Linked DNA regions of Homo sapiens: region 1 is linked to region 2. The links come from fine-mapping of genetic effects on gene expression. Tissue or cell type: whole blood. Region 2 holds a variant in brackets; the other region holds the start of a gene. All regions are shown on one strand. Distances are between the middles of the regions.

Region 1 (10,273 bases), 52 kb after region 2:
CCTGAGCAACATAATGAGACACCCTCTCTATAAAAAAAAAAATTTTTTAATTTCTATCCCTCCTATTGACATCCCTTTCTCCTTTGCACTTATTTGCACATATCTCCTTTCTCTATTTTTTCTCCTTTGCACTTATTTTAAATGACAAAAAGACATGGATTTTTCCTGTTTTACTAACTACTATATGTCCTGTACCTAGAGCAGAGTCTGGAATATAAAAGCTTAATAAATATTGTTGAAAGAATTATCCCTTAGACAAAATACACAGTTTCGGACTTAAATATAAAGCTATAAACCCTGGGGGTATAAAATAAAAGAATAGCTGAGAGAAGCTGGGAGGGAGTGGAGAGGTACACAAAAAGAATAAAGAGGACTGCTGCTTTTCTGTATAAGTCCATCTCTACTGTGTGACTTTTAAATCATGTCCAGTGTGTTAATCTGATAATATTTAGAATTTTAAATCTATGCAACTATATTTGAAACATTTTTATTTTGTGGCAAGCTATGTAAGTAATGCCAATTACGATGACACTTACATTAGGAAGGCTATGGTTGCTATAACACCACAGGCATGGTATGAGTGGTTGAAATCTTTCATGGTGGGATAAATAACAGCTGCATCTATGATAATCCACCAGCCTGTAAAAAACTAAAACAAAGGTGATACCAATGAGAAATCATAGCAATTCTGTATCTCACTGGCTAAAAGCAAGGTATTTAAGTGAGGAGATCCCTTTTAATACATTTCAAAAATGTTCTAGCTTTTTCCCACATGTAATTTGCACATGGCCTAATAACTGATTAGGTACCCTTAAATCTGAGAGCAATTTATATTTATTAACATAACTTTTCTCTAAGCCTACTTCAATCATTATTTAATTTTTATCATAATAAAGCCTTGTAATCTAATTTGGTGAACTAGAAACCAGTTATCTCATGGAGGGGGAAAGGAAAAAAGTGACTCCAATTCCAACTGACAGAAGTGTCCTGTTGATATATGATAAACTTCCAGAGAAATATTCCCCAAAATCAAGAAAAAAGCATTCAAATTAATATGGAGAACAACTATTGTTCACAGAATTTTAGCTATCTTCTTGGTGTGAAATAACAGCTCTGAGGTTCTGCTTTTGATGAATTCCAGTGCAGTCTAAATATGGTTTCAGGTGTGATTTTAAATTTAATTTAAACACCAGATTACAATTTATCTAATTGAATTTGGCTCTAGATATTATCAAGGGCAAAGGTATAACAAAATAACGCCAAAACTTCAAAAACAGTTTTTATCATCTGAGCAGATATTTACAATAAAATTATATTAACCAAATTCTGACAAGTAGCCTAGAAGATTTTAAAAGTAACCCCCTTTCCTTTCCTATCCCCACACCAAACCCTGACTCAGTTAGCTCTGGCAACTGACATCTTCTGGCAATTATTTTAAAGTAACAATTTTAGGCTAGTCAAATTACTTTTATCAGGTTACAGACAGATCCATACTCGATTAATAACATTTTTAATGGCTAGCATGAGTACATATGCCTTTCTTTTTACCCTCAGCTCAATGTATTTAAGATATTTTCTTCATAGACTAAAAACTCAAAGCTTTTTGGCCAGGTGCAATAGCCTGTAATCTCAGGACCTTGGGAGGCCAAGGCCAGTGAATCACTTGAGCCCAGGAGTAGGAGACCAGCCTGGGCAACATGGAGAGACCTCATCTCTACAAAAAAAACAAACAAAAAAAAAAACAAAAATTAGCCCGGTGTGGTGGCCTTCATCCGTGGTCCAGGCTACTCCGGAGGCTGAGGTGGGAGGATCACCTGAGCCCGGGAGGTCGAGGTTGCAATGAGCAGTGATTTCACCACTGTACTCCAGCCTGGGAGACAGAGTGAGACCCTGTCTCGAAAATAAATAAATCTTAAAGCTTAAGAAAAAATGGCTTGGTGCGGTGGCTCATGCCTGTAATCCCAACACTTTGGGAGGCCGAGGCAGACAGATCATCTGAGGTCGGGAGTTCAAGACCAGCTTGACCAACATGGAGAAACCCCGTCTCTACTAAAACAAGAGCAAGGCCAGGCGCGGTGGCTCACACCTGTAATTCCAGCACTTTGCAAGGCCGAGGCAGGCGGATCACGAGGTCAGGAGATCGAGACCACGGCGAAACCCCGTCTCTACTAAAATACAAAAAAATTAGCCGGGCGCAGTGGCGGGCGCCTGTAGTCCCAGCTACTCGGGAGGCTGAAGCAGGAGAATGGCGTGAACCCCGGGAAGCGGAGCTTGCAGTGAGCTGAGATTGCGCCACTGCACGCCAGCCTGGGCGACAGACTGAGACTCCGTCTCAAAAAAAACCAAAAAAAACAAAAACAACAACAACAAAAAAACAAGAGCAAAACTCTATCTCAAAAAATAAAAATAAAAAATTACTCTTTAGAGCCTACGACACCATATGATCATAAAAAACTAATAGCAGATCCCTTGAGGGATCTGAAGTGTAAATAAGAATTTTATTCTGTAAATTACTTCCACACAATGTATTTTAATGAGTTTCCTTTTTGTTTTTGCTTTTTAAAAAAAAATTTTAAGGGGCCATGCTAATCTTCTCTGTATTATTCCAATCTTAGTGTATGTGTTGCCAAAGCGAGCACTTTTTTTTCCCTGAGACTGAGAAGAAAGTTAACTGGATTATGGAGAAATGCAATCACATCTATTGACTGGTTTTGACCTGACTGCGTCTTAAACACTTCCTTGTACCTTAATATACTCATTAAAAGGAGATATAATCCATATAATGAACAAATGTTTTATTATGCCATTTTTACCATGCAGTTAAAACAACCCAACCACTTGTTAATCAAATTTTAAACCATAAACTCTTAAAGTGGAACTAATAACTCTCCACAAACAACAAAATATCAACATGGTCAAAGTGGTCAAAGATAAAATAAATAGTACATATTTTAAAACATCCTGCAGAATTCAAAACCCATAAACACAAACGCACCAAAAAATAAGGCCCAAATAATCAATGACACTTACTAGTACACCAGCAGCAATGGAAGCAATAGTATTGCGCTTTTCCCCCCAGTCAATGCATTCTGAGCATCTCAAGCCCTCTAGAAATCCAGACATTTTTTTCAGGTCACTTAAAAACAAACAAACAAACAATTAAATAAGTACTTCCATTTACTTGCTTCAAGCCCGAAAAATAATTAATAGCTCAGGAATAATTAGATAAAAGTGAAATTACAAATGCTTTATTTTGGTTCCACATACTTCTTCAGAATATTTGATTTAGTTTTTGATGAATTTCCACATTATAACTTTGGAAAGTAATATCTGGATTCATTTAGTATCTTTTTTAATGTAAAAAATGGTTTGGGGGCCGGGCGTGGTGGTTCATGCCCGTAATCCTACCAATTTGGGAGGCTGAGGTGGGTGGGTCACCTGAGGTCAGGAGTTTGAGACCAGCCTGGCCAACATGGCAAACCCCATCTCTACTAAAAATACAAAAATTAGCCGGGGGTGGTGGCGCATGTCTGTAATCGCAGCTACTTGGGAGGCTGAGGCAGGAGAATCGCTTGAACCTGGGAGTCGAAAGTTGCAGTGAGCCGAGATCGTGCCACTGCACTCCAGCCTGGGCGACAGAGCAAGACTCTGTCTCAAAAATAATAATAAATAAATAGAAATAAATGGTTTGGATATATTTAAGCAGTATTAACAAAGGTGGGTCTCCAAATATTGAAAAAATTTTAACTACTGGTTGACCTCCTCCTGAAAATCTGTCACATCCTATTATTTCTAAGTAGGTATTAAATTAGTTTAGGTGGTACTTTTAATACCAAGTATATGATTACTAATCCACAGGAGCTCTTTTGTATCATTTTGATTCCAAACTTATTAAATGAATTTGATATTTACAGTCCAGGAGCACTAACATTAGTAGAGAGACAAGTGATAAACTTTGGCTCTGAGTGGAATTACAGATTCAAATGAAAAATATTTCTCTAATTTACATATTTTATCACAGAACGTGTGTTTCTTCACACCTAAATCAAGAAATTAAACACTGCACTGCAGTTCTTACCTCTACCCACATCATTTCCTTTCACTTCATTCATTATTTTTCTTTCTGCAAGCCTGCCTTTTGGTGTCATTTCTATATAAAGAACATCCACTTTAATATCCCTATCTCTGATCCTAACGGGTGTTTCCAGCCAAAAGCAAGCACAGAATCGTGGTTAATAGTAATTCAGATTACAAAAATCCAACTGCTATTTAAATATAGCCGACCCAAGCTGTCTTTACAAATTATATAAAACATTCCTGTAAGCCGAGCAGTAGAGACCTGAGATACAGCCATGTTATCTCTATTTCAGAGTATGAAAAAGCCTGAAATACATATAACTTGCGAATAACAACACCCAAACTCCTACAGCGAACTTGACTTCCTTAAGATACTTTGTAGCCAGCAATTATGGTTGTCCAAAAATATGACACCCTACAATAGAGCAACGTCTCCCATTTTTAACTTCTCTTTTAAAAATTAAATATTAAAATATATGATTACAGCCAATGCTAAGATGCCTTTGGGACAAGTTCAATTTAGGAAATTCACTCATTTGATTCTTCCCCGGGAAGAACTGCAATTCAATAAGTGTTATTTTCGGTTCATCCCAATGGCCCCACCCCGAATCCATTTTTCTTTGCACGACGACTGGTACGCTCAAGCCAGACCCCGCCCTCCAAACTCTGGGACTTTTAGGTCTCGAGGGACGCCGCTGGAAGATGGGGGAGCCACCTTTAGCCGGGGCACCCCTCGCTGAGGGAGCTGGCCGGGTCACGCTCCTTTCTCGGGGCTTCGGCTTGTCCAGCTGTGAAGTGGGGGATCGGGGGATTTTCCAGGGATCCTGGGGTGTCCCGGGGGAGGGCGCGGTCCCCTCTCCGTCTTGGCGGGGTCTGGACGCCGTCGCCTTCTCCTGGCGCCGCCGGACCCAGGAGAGGAGAGGTCCGCGGCGGCTCAGCCCGGGTCTGCGGCTTCCGGGAGGGTGGCGGCAACGAGCCTGTGCTGTGGGCACCAGCCCGTCAGACGGCCCCGGCTCCGAGGCCTCTCCAGCCTGCGGCCGCTACTCTCTTACCCCCACTCCCCGCCCGACACTTACGTCCAGCCCCGTCGTGCAGTGGTTCCGGAGCCCGGTGTCGCGCCGCGCCGGCCCGCCTCACTCCCCCGATTTTAGCCAAGAAAACAAAACGGCCACAGCCTCCAGACACCCGGATGCAGCAGTACCATCCACCCGGCTCAGTCGCGCATGCGGACACGGGGCGGAGGGCGGGGCGCCGGGTCCGGAGGGAGCCACGCCCACCACAACAACGCGTCTGCGCATGCCCGGGCGCTGGGTTCAGGGGCTTTCCGCCGCTCTGGGTTCACAGCTGGACGTCGGGAGTGCTAGTTTGGAGTACGCCATTTGAGAGTAGGCGTGAGAAGTTGCTCTGTGTGCTGAGCGTTCTAAAGGAAGGCGTCCGTTGGCCTTCGTACCCGTCTTGAGTGAGGTGACGAGTGTTTTCTAGTACTGGGGTCGGCCGCGCAGCCCTCTCAGGGGTGGGTGGCAGGAAGAGTGCCGGGTCCCGCGTGGTGCAAAAGGTGGGTTCAGGTTTGCGGCCACACAGCGCTACTCAGGACTTTTTAGTCTTGTTTATTTTCTCCGTGCCTGTTCCCGCCCCCCGCAGCTCCACCTCTGGGAGAGGGGCGGGTTCAGCTCCAGGAGGCGGGGACTTCCCGGCTTGGCGTGGCTGGGGTGTCCCGTGGACCCCAGTCTCGGCGCGGTGACCCACTTATGGGACTTGGCCTTTCTTTGTTGTTTGTTTAAGGCAGGGTTTCTCAGCCTGGGCACTACTGAGGTTTTGGGCCGGCTAATTCTGTCTGGGTTGGGGAGGGTGCTGTCCCGTGCTTCGCAGGTTGTGTAGCTGCATCCCCCGCCTCTACCCAGTGGATGCAAGTAGCAGCCCCAGTGAACCAAAAATGCCCCCAGACTTTGCCAAATATCCCCTCCCGGGGAAGATCGCCTCGCTTGAGAACCACTGTTGGAGGAGAGCCTGGGTTTTCGGGAGGTAACCGTTTACAAAGGGGAGAACGGTAAGAAGCCGGAAGCAACGATGACTTAGCTACGTGAAAGACTTGCGGCCGGGCTCGCCCCTCTTCTAGAAGCCGTCAGTTTGGGTCTCGCGTCTGGAATCACCGTCAAGGAGTCAGATCCAGCCCCGGAGAGGGAGCAGGGTCGAGGTCTCCTTGCAGAAGGCGCCACCGCAGGAAGCACAGGCGCAACGTGCGGTCTCCCTAGCGGAGGCGCTCGCGATCCTGCAGCCGCCGGTCCGGGAGGTGCTCGGTAGCCCTCCTTGGTGCCTGTCCGGTAGCTGGTCACTCTCGGGGGAAGGTCGTGTGCAGAAGGGCACATGCGATCACACAGAGACGGCGTTGCTGCGGCTTTGACCCGATGGTGCACCCGAAAGAACACAGAGGGTGAAGGGAGAGATCCAGGAAGTGGTCGCGGAGCAGAACCCCCCTTCACTTCAGTTAAAAAGGTGGGTCAATTGTCGTTAAGAGATACGCACAGGTTCATCTGATTGACATGTACGGCGGCAGTATATGAGTGGGATGGGAACCAAGGTGACTGTTGTTTCCTTTGATGGATGAAACTTTCATCCCTTTGGGTTTTTTTGTTTGTTTTTGGCGGTGCATTAGCCGATTAGTAGATAAAACTGCATGACAATCTATAGCCTGTTTTTAAATGGACACGTTCTTACCACTCAGGAGGTTTATCGTGATTGTTTAATGTCTCAGGGTGGAGGAATCTAGTGCAGGCAGTTCTTAATGAAACCTTTTAAATTCCCGTTAGTGACTTAACATTAGTTTACCAGCTCTGAGCAGCTTTAAACAAACATCCTCTTTTAATAGCTAATGAGTGCGGGAGAAAAGATACTAACTCCTTTCTCTTTGCGTTTTTTGCCCCTACCCTTTTTTCTCTTTTCTGGCCTTAACATGATTGTCAAATATTTATAAATATGAGTGAGCATCTTTATATTACTCTTACTAATAAGATACATGCTTAATTTGTCATTCTTTACCTTTTTGGGACTTAATGAATGTTTGTCTTTTGTAGATAAAATGGAGCTGCTAGAAATAGCAAAAGCCAGCCACCCATATTAACCCCTCCATTTTCCCTATAATTAATGGCTTTCATTATTGTGGTATATTTGTTACAATTACTGGACTAATATGATACATTATTATTAACTGACATCCACATTTTATTCAGATTTCTTTAGTTTTTTGCCTAATGTCTTTTTCTGTTCCAGGATCCCCTCCAGAATACCACATTACAGTTAATTGTTATGTCTCCTTAGTCTCCCCTTGGCTGTGTCAGTTTCACATACTTTCTTTGTTTTTGATGATATAGATGTGAAGAGTACTAGCCAGGAATATTATAGGTATTGGGTTTTTTAAATGTATGTGTCATTTCATGATTAAAAATCAGTTGCGGCCAGGTGTGGTGGCTCAGCACTTTGGGAGGCTAAGGTGGGAGGATTGCTTGAGGCCAGGAGTTCAAGACCAGCCTGGCCAATGTGGCAAAATCCCATCTCTGCTAAAAATACAAAAAATATAGCTGGGCACGGTGGCACACACCTGTAATCCCAACTACTCGGGAGGCTGAAGCACAAGGATTGTTTGAACCTGGGAGGTGGAGGTTGTAGTGAGCCAAGATTGTGCCACTGCATTCTAGTCTAGGCAACAGGTGAGACTCTGTCTCAAAAAAAAAAAAACAAGTGTGGATTACAGTATCTGTTGGGCCTACTATCGTAAAACACATACACATGCATGTGCACACACAAACCTCCAGGCTATCACTTCAGTGCCAGCCAGCAGCATTTCTTACTCTAACCACTGCAACTGTGTCCCTGCTTCATCTTGGGGCTTCATTCTCATATATTTTCTTCACACAGCAGCCACAGAGAAGCTTTTACAATGTAAACCAGAGTCTATTACTTCTGTTCTCCAACTACTTCAGTGGCTAAATTGGTACCAGTAGAGTGGGGTGCTGCCGTAGATACTCAAAAATGGGTATGTGACTTTGGAACTGGGTAACAGGCAGGGTTTGGAACAGTTTGGAGGGCTCAGAAGAAGACAGGCAAATGTGGGAAAGTTTGGAACTTCCTAGAGACTTGTTGAATGGCTTTGCCCAAAATGCTGATAGCACTGTGGACAATAAAGTCCATAGGCTGAGGTGGTCTCAGACGGAAATGAGGAACTTGTTGGGAACTGGAGCAAAGGGGACTCTTGTTATGTTTTAGCAAAGATACTGGCGGCATTTTGCCCCTGCACGAGATATTTGTAGAACTTTGAACTTCAGAGAGATGATTTAGAGTATCTGGCAGGAGAAATTTCTAAGCAGCAAAGCATTCAAGAGGTGACTTGGGTGCTGTTAAAGACATTCAGTTTTATAAGGGAAGCAGAGCATAAAAGTTCGGAAAATTTGCAGCCTGACAATGTGATAGAAAAGAAAAATTCCCATTTTCTGAGGAGAAATTCAAGCTGGCTGCAGAAATTTGCATGAGTAACAGGAGCCAAATGCTAATTCCCAAGACAATGGGGAAAATGTCTCCAGGGCATGTCAGAGGTCTTTATGGCAACCCCTCCCATCACAGGTCCAGAGATATCAGGAAAAAATGGTTTTGTTGGCCAGGCCCGGGGTCCTCATGCTGTGTGCAGCCTAGGGACTTGGTGCCCTGCATCCCAGCCACTCCCAACCATGACTGACAGGAGGCAAGGTAGAGCTTGGGCTGTAGCTTCGGGGAGTGCAAGCCCCAAGCCTTGACAGCTTCCATGTGGTGTTGAGACTGCGAGTGCACAGAAGTCAAGAACTGGGGTTTGGAAACCTTCGCCTAGATTAAAGAGGATGTGCGGAAATGCCTGGATGCCCAGGCAGAAGTTTGCTGCAGGGGCAGGGCCCTCATGGAGATCCTCTGCCAGGGCAGTGCAGAAGGGAAATGTGGGGTCAGAGACCCCACACACAGTCCCTACTGGGGCACCACCTAGTGGAGCTGTGAGAAGAGGTCCTCCAGACCCCAGAATGGTAGATCCACCGACAGCTTGCACCGTGTACCTGGAAAAGTTGCAGACACTCAATGCCAGCCCATGAAAGCAGCTGAGAGGGAGGCTGTACCCTGCAAAGGTACAGGGGCAGAGCTGCCCAAGACCATGGGAACCCACCCCTTCCATCTGCGTGACCTGGATGTGAGATGTGGAGTCAAGAGGAGATCATTTTGGAGCTTTAAGATTTGACTGCCCCACTGGATTTTGGACTCTCATGGGCCTGTAGCCTCTTTGTTTTGACCAATTTATCCCATTTGGAATGGCTGTATTTACCCAATGCCTGTACCCCCATTGTATCTAGGAAGTAATTAACTTGCTTTGGATTTTATAGGCTCATAGATGGAAAGGACTTGCCTTGTCTCAGATGAGACATTAGACTGTGGACTTTTGAGTTAATGCTGAAATCATTTAAGACTTTGAGGGACTGTTGGGATGGTGTGATTGGTTTTGAAATGTGAGGACATGAAATTTGGGAGGGGCCATGGGTGGAATGATAGGGTTTGGTTGTGTCCCCACCCAAATCTCATCCTGAATTCCCATGCGTTGTGGGAGGGACCCAGTGGGAGGTAACTGAATCATGGGGACAGGTCTTACCCGTGCTGTTCTCGTGATAGTGATAAGTCTAACAGGATCTGATGGCTCTATAAGGGGGAGTTTCTCTGCACAAGCTGTCTTTGTCTTTGCCTGCCATCCACGTAAGACGTGACTTGCTCCTCATTGCCTTTCGCCATGATTGTGAGGCCTCCCCAGCCATGTGGAACTGTAAGTCCATTAAACCTCTCTTTCTTTTGTAAATTGCCTAGTCTGGGGTTTGTGAACAGACTAATACAATGGCTTTTCACCTTGCAGAATAAAATCCTACGAGATCCTCATGCTCTAGCTCCTGGCCAGGCCACCTCCTCAGGAGTTAGATCACTTATCCGTCTCTCCCTGGCCCACCCTTCTCTGTCACATGGCTTCTTTGCTGACCGTGATACACACCACACTTGTCTTCTCTACCTGGAAGTTGTATTCCCCATACCCACATGGCTCACTTCTTCACTTCATTCAAGTCTCTGCTCAGATATTAACCTCTTCAGAGAGCCCTTCCTTCACACACTGTCTTGCATAGCAGCCTCTCCTACAAGTTGTCTT
Region 2 (8,000 bases):
AATAAATAAATAAATAAAAATAAAAAGCAGACAGACTTTTTAGTTGGCTTTAGAATTGTTAGACACCCTCTGCAGACAAGGCACCCCGATTGCTTGCACCCAGGGTGGACTACTCCCTCCATCCTGCCCTTGTTACACCCTGGCTGGGGGTCAGCATTTCAGGCAGCTGAATGACCCAAAGTGGGAACACGCTAGTGGGTTTGAGGATGAGCAAGTGGAGGAGTGCAATAGGAGGTGACGCCCGAGAGGTCAGGTGAGAGTGGATCCTGCAGGGTCGTGGCAAGAACCTGGACCTTGACTTTGAGTGACATGGGAGCCGCTGGAGGCTTCTGAGCAGAGGAGTAACATGATCTGACTTGCATTTTATTTTATTTATTTATTTGACGCAGTCTCACTCTGTCGCCGAAGCTGGAGTGCAGTGGCGCCATCTCAGCTCACTACAGCCTCTGCCTCCCAGGTTCCAGTGAATCTCCTGCCTCAGCCTCCCAGGTAGATGGGATTACAAGCAAGCATCACCACGCCTGGCTAATTTTTGTATTTTTAGTAGAGACAGGGTTTTGCCATGTTGGCCAGGCTGGTATCGAACTCCTGACCTCAGGTGATCCACCCACCTCAGCCTCCCAAAGTGCTGAGATTACAGGCTTGAGCCACCACGCCCGGCCTGACTTGCATTTTAACAGGGTCACTCTGTCTGCTGTGTGGAGAACAGTCCGCAGGAAGACAAGGGTGGAAATGGGGAGACCAGTTAGGAGGTTACTGTAACAATTTGGGGTAGCGGTGATGGTGGCTTAAACCAAGATGGGGTCAGTGGGAAATGGTGCTAAAAATCCTGCCAATTCTGGGTATTTTTAGAAAGCACAGCTGACAGCTTTCTCCAGTAGCCCACTAAATAAGTTATGAAGCATTACTAAAATGTGATAGTCATGATGCAAAATTAGAATATATCTAGAATCTCCCGAAGACCTTAGTTTGGTATTACAAGAAGTCTGGTTGCTTCATGTTGCAAAATTTATATCACTCATCACTCCTGCAGAGTTAAAATTCCGCTGAGAAGTAGGAATCAGTGAAGTGCGTGTCCATGTGGGTTTTTGCCACACCTAAGTGAACCTTGGTCAAAAGCATATAAGAGCTACTGATAGGCCGGGCGTGGTGGCTCATGCCTGTAATCTCAGCACTTTGGGAGGGAAGGATCTCTTGAGCCCAGGAGTTCGAGACCAGCCTGAGCAACATAGTGAGATTCCATCTTTACACAAAATTTAAAAATTGGCCAGGCATGGTTGTGCACTCCTGTAATCCCAGCTACTTAGGAGGCTGAGGTGGGAGGATTGCTTGAGCCTGGGAGTTGGAGACTACAGTGAGCTGTGGCCACACCACTGCACTCCAGCTTGAGCAATGGAGCAAGACTCTGTCTCAAAAAAAAAAAAAAAAAAAAAAAAAAGAGGCCGGGCACAGTGGCTCATGCCTGTAATCCCAGCACTTTGGGAGGCCGAGGCGGGTGGATCGCCTGAGGTCAGGAGTTTGAGACCAGCCTGGCAAACACGGTGAAACCCCATCTCTACTAAAAATACAAAATTAGCCCAGCGTAGTGGCGCATGCCTGTAATCCCAGCTACTAGGGAAGCTGAGGCAGGAGAATCGCGTGAACCTGGGAGGCAAATGTTCCAGTGAGCCGAGATCGTGCCATTGCACTCCAGCCTGGGCAAAGCCTGCTGGGTTGGGCTGGGTAAGCTCTGAACACCAGTCTCGTGGCTTCAAGTCACACCTCCTAAGTGAAGCTCTGAACTTTCTCCAAGGACCATCAGGGCTTTCCCCTGGGCAGAGGATGCCGACACTCACTGCTCTTACTGGGTTTTATTGCAGACAGACTACCACATGAACCTGAGGCACTTCTACGTGTTCGCAGCCTATTTTGGGCTGACTGTGGCCTGGTGCCTGCCAAAGCCTCTACCCAAGGGAACGGAGGATAATGATCAGAGAGCAACGATACCCAGTTTGTCTGCCATGCTGGGTAAGGACAAGGTGGGGTGAGTGGTCTCATACTTGGGCTGAGCAGAATGGCTCAGAAAAGGCTCTGGCTGAAAAAATCTCCCTCCTTTACCAACTTCCCCTGGGTGTCTGAAGCCCTTCCATCATGATTCACTTCTTTGAGTAGTGTTTGCTAAATTCATACCTTTGAATTAAGCACTTCCTTTTAGGGACCTCTCTTCATTAATATCCACTAGAAAGGAGAGACTCATTATGTGTGAGTTTCAATAAGTTTATCCAATCCCTTTGTTTTCAACTGAAAGGAGGGAAACGGACAAGTGAAGAAGGTAGGGCCCAGGAGTGAAGGAACAAGGGTGGGAATAGTAATAATGTTGTACTTTGAAAATCTACTGGGAAAATGATGAACTTAGACTGCTGGGAGAGGCTAATAGAAAATCGGGCAGTGAGCTTGATAGTAGGCAAAGGACTATCAGGCCACGGGGTCAAGTTAAAGCAGCACATTCATTAAAAAAAAAAAAATAAGCGTTTGGGCCAGGCGTGGTGGCTCAAGCCTGTAATCCCAGCACTTTGGGAGGCCAAGGTGGGTGGATCACCTGAGGTCAGGAGTTCGAGACCAGCCTGGCCAACAGGGCGAAACCCCATCTCTACTAAAAATACAAACAAATCAGCTGGGCATGGTGGTGCACGCCTGTAATCCCAGCTACTTGGGAGGCTGAGGCAGGAGAATCTTTTGAATCCAGGTGGTGGAGGTTGCAGTGAGCCAAGATCGCGCCACTGCACTCCAGCCTGGGCAACAGAGCAAGAGTCCATCTCAATTAAAAAGAAAAAAAAATTAAAATAAGCATTTGACCATCACAGAGCAGGTTCAGGAGGCCTGGGGTATGCAGATTTCAACCCTCTTGGCCTTTGTTTCCTTGTCTGTAAAATGTGGTTAGCTGGTATCAGCTTGAGAGCTCGGAGGGGAGACGTGACTTCCCCATCTAACTCTAAGTGACAAGGCTGAGACTCTCCAGCCCTAGGATTCTCATCCAAAACCCCTCGAGGCTCAGACCTTTGGAGCAGGAGTGTGATTCTGGCCAACCACCCTCTCTGGCCCCCAGGCGCCCTCTTCTTGTGGATGTTCTGGCCAAGTGTCAACTCT[G/C]CTCTGCTGAGAAGTCCAATCCAAAGGAAGAATGCCATGTTCAACACCTACTATGCTCTAGCAGTCAGTGTGGTGACAGCCATCTCAGGGTCATCCTTGGCTCACCCCCAAAGGAAGATCAGCATGGTGAGCAGGGCGCTGCCCTTGGGCAGCACTTGGGTCTAACAGGACTAGCACACATATTTATGCCCCTCCCCACCCCAGGGCCAGCGTGGGTTGGGAGAGGGCATGCCGGGTGGTGGAGCTGTGCCTGCCTCTACAGTGGAGCTCTAGGAAGAATGCTGGGTGGTCACAGGGGGCCTGGGACTCAGGAGACTGTCCAGTGATCAAAGGCTTTCTGGGGGGAGTGATTAAATCCATCCATGCTAACATGAAACAGACCTGAGTTTGAACCCCGTTTCTGCTAGTTGCTCAAGTCAGTCACCATGAGCGAGAGTCAGCAGCAACAGACTAGACTAGAATTAGCCAGCCTCTCTCTTCCCCCCAACAAATTTCAAGAATGGAACCATCAGAATCAGAAGTAGAGAAGTATGTGACACTAGCCATGTGGCTCTGGTCAAGCCACTTCAACGTTTTGAGTCTCAGTGGCCTCATCTGTAAAGTGAGAATTAAGAGATGGTGCATGTAAAGTGCTTAACGGGGAGTAAATGGTAGGCAAACATTAGCTGCTGCTATTAGTACAGAGAGACAATGGTGTGTGTGAGTCTTGTGGGCAGAGATGGGTGAGAGGGGAGACAAAACAAGTTCTCATGATGATGGGGGCAGGGGGTCCAGCTGGTGGTGTCGGAGGGAAGTCTGGACAGACCAGTGGTGGGGCTCGGGTGGGAGGCACTGGGGGGGCTGGAGTGGAAAGAATGTGGCCACAGATGACAGCTTCACAGCAGAATTCAGTGCTAAGAGGAAGTGAGTGGCCATGAGTTCCATGGTGACAGAAAGTCTAAGACACCTAGCAAGGCAGGAGTGGGTGTCAGCTCAGGGAAGCTCAGAGGCTAAACCTAGGTGAGAGCTGAGGGTGTCAGATAAGAGCAAGGCAAGGCTCCGGTTCTGGAGTAGTGAAGGACATAGCAGAGCTATAACCCAGGAACAAGGCCCAGCTTATTGGAACTGGGACCAGTCACACAGGGTGGCACAGGCACCAAGTAGCCAATAATAATAATAAAAACAATAACAATGATTTATGTCTATTGGGCATTTATTCATGTTCTATGCCAGACACTGGACTAAGAGCTTTATATGTGGAAACTCATTTAATCCTTACAATAACCTTATGAAGAAGGTACATCCAAAACCCCATTCTTCTAGGCCAGGTGCAGTGGCTCACACCTGTAATCCCAATATTTTGGAAAGCTGAGGCAAGAGGATTGGTTGAGGCCAGGAGTTCAAGACCAGCCCAGGCAACATAGCAAGACCCTGTCTCTAAAAAATAAAACAAAAACCCATTCTTCCCGCTGTCCAGGGACACACCACTAATGAGTGTGATGGGTGCCTAGGATGCTGAGCACCTGGACTTCCCAGCTCATTCCCTAAATGCTGCACAATCAGGGTAACTGTGCCCTGAGCCTAAGAGGCAGTAGTGAGCTGGCCCACCGTGTCCACTGATGAAGGACACGTAGCCCCAACACAGGGGAGAGGTGGTTTCAGGATCAGCAAAGCAGGGAGGATGTTACAGGGTTGCCTTGTTCCCAGCGTGCTGGTCACTTGCAGCAAGATGGTGTTCTCTCTCTACCTTGCTTCCTTTACCCACACGCTATTTCTTTGCAGACTTATGTGCACAGTGCGGTGTTGGCAGGAGGCGTGGCTGTGGGTACCTCGTGTCACCTGATCCCTTCTCCGTGGCTTGCCATGGTGCTGGGTCTTGTGGCTGGGCTGATCTCCATCGGGGGAGCCAAGTGCCTGCCGGTAAGAAACTAGACAACTAATGCTCTCTGCTTTGGCTGAAGGCCAGCAGGACGCTGGGACCTGATGGGCCACTGTGCAGTGCACAGCTGCATTAGGCAGGTGTTGGTGCATTCTCTTATTGGCTTCAACGCCTAGCGAGGGATCCATCCTGGCTCGGTGGCACATTTGTTAAGATGCTGGGGAGCAGGTGGCAGAACCCATTTGAGCTTGCTTGGGCACTGGGGAGAATTTGTTACCAGGCTACAGGGGTGTCACAGAACTCAAGGACAGGGACTGGAGTGTTGTGGGGAGCCCAGAAGCCCCTGTTTTACTTCTTTCTTTGCTTTTCCTGAATATCTGCTTTATTCTTACTCTATAGACCTGCTTCCTCCTCTTTCACCCCACATTGTGGGGTGTAGTCTTTTGCTTCAAGAAAGCAGCCTGGTGGATGGAATCTCTTGGCCCCAATCCCAAATTCTCTGGAGAAGGGGCTCTTTGGTTTAACTTGGATAATGTTGTCTTCAGCTGGGGGTGGGCACATCGTGCATATGTGGCTGCTGCCGGGGAACCACGTGGATGATGTGAGAGGAGCAGCACCCAGAAGAGGGAGTGCTGGGCTGATGGTCCAGGTCGTGTCCACTTCTGATTGTTTAATTCTTCTTCTAAGTGGATGGATCTTTCTCCAATACTCAGCAAATCCTGATCGTTCCAGAATACTTCATTATAGCCAATTGGTTATAATGTGCTTCTCTAAGAGAAATATTTAGGGACAACAAATCTTCATGGGTTTGAAGACTTGATGGAGGAAAAAGGAGTAGATTTTCGAAGGCTGGATTTGGATGAACAGGGGCTATTCAGGGAGTGCATTCCAACCTAAAATTAGGAAAAACTGGCTGGGCGCAGTGGCTCACGCGCTTTGGGAGGCCGAGGCGGGCAGATGGCCTGAGGTCAGGAGTTCAAGACCAGCCTGGCCAACATGGTGAAACCATCTCTACTAAAAGTACAAAAATTAGCCAGGCGTGGTGGCGGGCACCTGTCATCTTAGCTACTCAGGAGGCTGAGATGCGAGAATCACTTGAACCTGGGAGACAGAGCTTGCAGTGAGCCGAAATTGCGCCACTGCACTCCAGCCTGGGCGACAGAACAAGACTCTGTCTTAAAAAAAAAAAAGTGTTTTATATACAGAGTGGAATATTATTTAGCCATAAAAAGAATGAAATCCTGTCATTTGCAGCAACATGGATGGAACTGGAGGTCATTAAAAAATAAAATAAAATAAATAAGGAAAAACGTATCAATACTTCGATTGACCAAAACCAGGGCAAATCTGATTTTCATCTTTGCAAGGGGAACAAATTTCTTTTATCTCCTCTGGCTTTGAAACCCTGAAATGAAAGGAGGAAGGGCAGAAAAAAGAACACATAGCAAGTTACCATCAGGCTCAGCGCCCATCGCATTCCCTGAGCTTGTTTCCTTGACTTCATCACTGGCAGGACTATTCAAAAATGATTCCCTCATTCATTCATATATTCATTCATTCATCATTCCTTCATTCAACACATACGTTTTAACACTCATCTTGCTTTTCAAGCTATAGTTTAGTGAGCGAAATGGATACACAGAATACAGTGTGAGAACAGCTACAGGGCACATCTGAGCTAGCCTGGGATGGGTCCGGAAATGCTTCCTGGAGCAGAGGAAACGGTTGACAGCCAAGTGTTGACAGAGAAGTAGTATTAGCCAGGCAGAGACATGGGGAATGTATTCCAGGCAGAAGGCACAGTGTGTATGAAAGCTTATTGGTAAGAAGAGTGTGTGGCCCAACCAGGAAACAGACATTCTGAAGGCATAGGGTCCACCCAGGAGCATGGTGAACCCAGATCCCTGAAAGATGGGAGGTGCTCAGGCACACTTCCTGGGCTAGTTGAGGGGTCTGGATTTTTATTTACTTATTTTTTTATTTATTGAGACAGAGTCTCGTTCTGTCACCCAGGCTGGAGTGCAGTGGTGCAATCTCAGCTCACTGCAACCTCCACCTCCTGGGTTCAAGTGATTCTCCTACCTCAGCCTCCTGAGTAGCTGGGATTACAGGTGCCCACCACCATGCCTGGCTAATTTGTGTGTGTGTGTGTGTGTGTGTGTGTGTGTGTGTGTTTTGTTGTTGTTGTTGTTGTTGAGACGGTGTCTCGCTCTTTTGCCCAGGCTGGAGTGCAGTGGCGCCATCTTGGCTTACTGCAAGCTCTGCCTCCCGGGTTCACACCATTCTCCTGCCTCAGCCTCCTGAGTAGCTGGGACTACAGGCGCCCTCCACCACGCCCAGCTAATTTTTTGTGTTTTTAGTAGAGACGGGGTTTCGCCATGTTGGCCATGCTGGTCTTGAACTCTTGACTTCAGGTGATCCACCCACGTTGGCCTCCCAAAGTGCTGGGATTACAGGCATGAGCCACCGTGCCCGACCTGGATTTTTATTCTGAAGACTAATGGGGATCCTAAGGAAGGAACCAGCCTGACTGAATTTGCATATGTGTCCACATCTGCTGGCTCATGGCTGTGTGGGAGGCTGAGTGATGGGGAGGAAGGATTACTGAGTAGGGATCTAGAGGTGTGGCCTCATGCTTTCTTTCTAACCAGCTGTGTTGTCTTTGGGATGGTGCTTAAATTTGGGCTAGACCAGTGGGTCTTGGTCACCCCCCAGGGGACATCTGACAATGTCTGGAGGCGTTCTTGGTTGACACAGTGGGGTGAGGGCTGCTACTGGCAGCTCGTGGGGAGAGACCAGGAATGATGCTTAACATCCTACAGTGCACAGGGCAGCCCCCATCACAAGGAATTATCAGCTGAAATTGTGAATAGTGCCTACACTAGACCCTTGCTACTCATAGTGTGGTCCGTAGATGAGCAGCATTGGCATCACCTGGGACCTTGTTAGAAATGCTCTTAGACCCCACCCCACATCCACTAAAGCCAGCTCTTCATTTCAACAAACTCCCCATTGA

The links. PIP is the estimated chance that this variant, and not a neighbour inherited with it, causes the effect.
Region 1: TMEM50A starts here. The variant in region 2 is fine-mapped to the expression of TMEM50A in whole blood (INTERVAL, PIP above 0.99).

Annotation. Positions count from the first base shown.
Region 1 is chr1:25,333,337-25,343,609 of GRCh38, reverse strand. TMEM50A (transmembrane protein 50A) reads right to left here and starts at 5,276. Exons shown (of 7, transcript NM_014313.4): 1 at 5,154-5,276; 2 at 3,031-3,136; 3 at 537-649. The coding sequence starts at 3,123. It also overlaps a transcript of RSRP1 not described here and the pseudogene LOC124904723. RefSeq lists silencers at 5,327-5,446, 6,438-6,732 and an enhancer at 8,322-8,852.
Region 2 is chr1:25,386,001-25,394,000 of GRCh38, reverse strand. It overlaps RHCE (Rh blood group CcEe antigens), which reads left to right. Exons shown (of 10, transcript NM_020485.8): 4 at 1,860-2,007; 5 at 3,086-3,252; 6 at 4,888-5,025. Among named protein-coding and RNA genes, the nearest start is that of RHCE, 31 kb to the left of the region's middle. The variant G/C (reference allele first, on the strand shown) is at 3,127.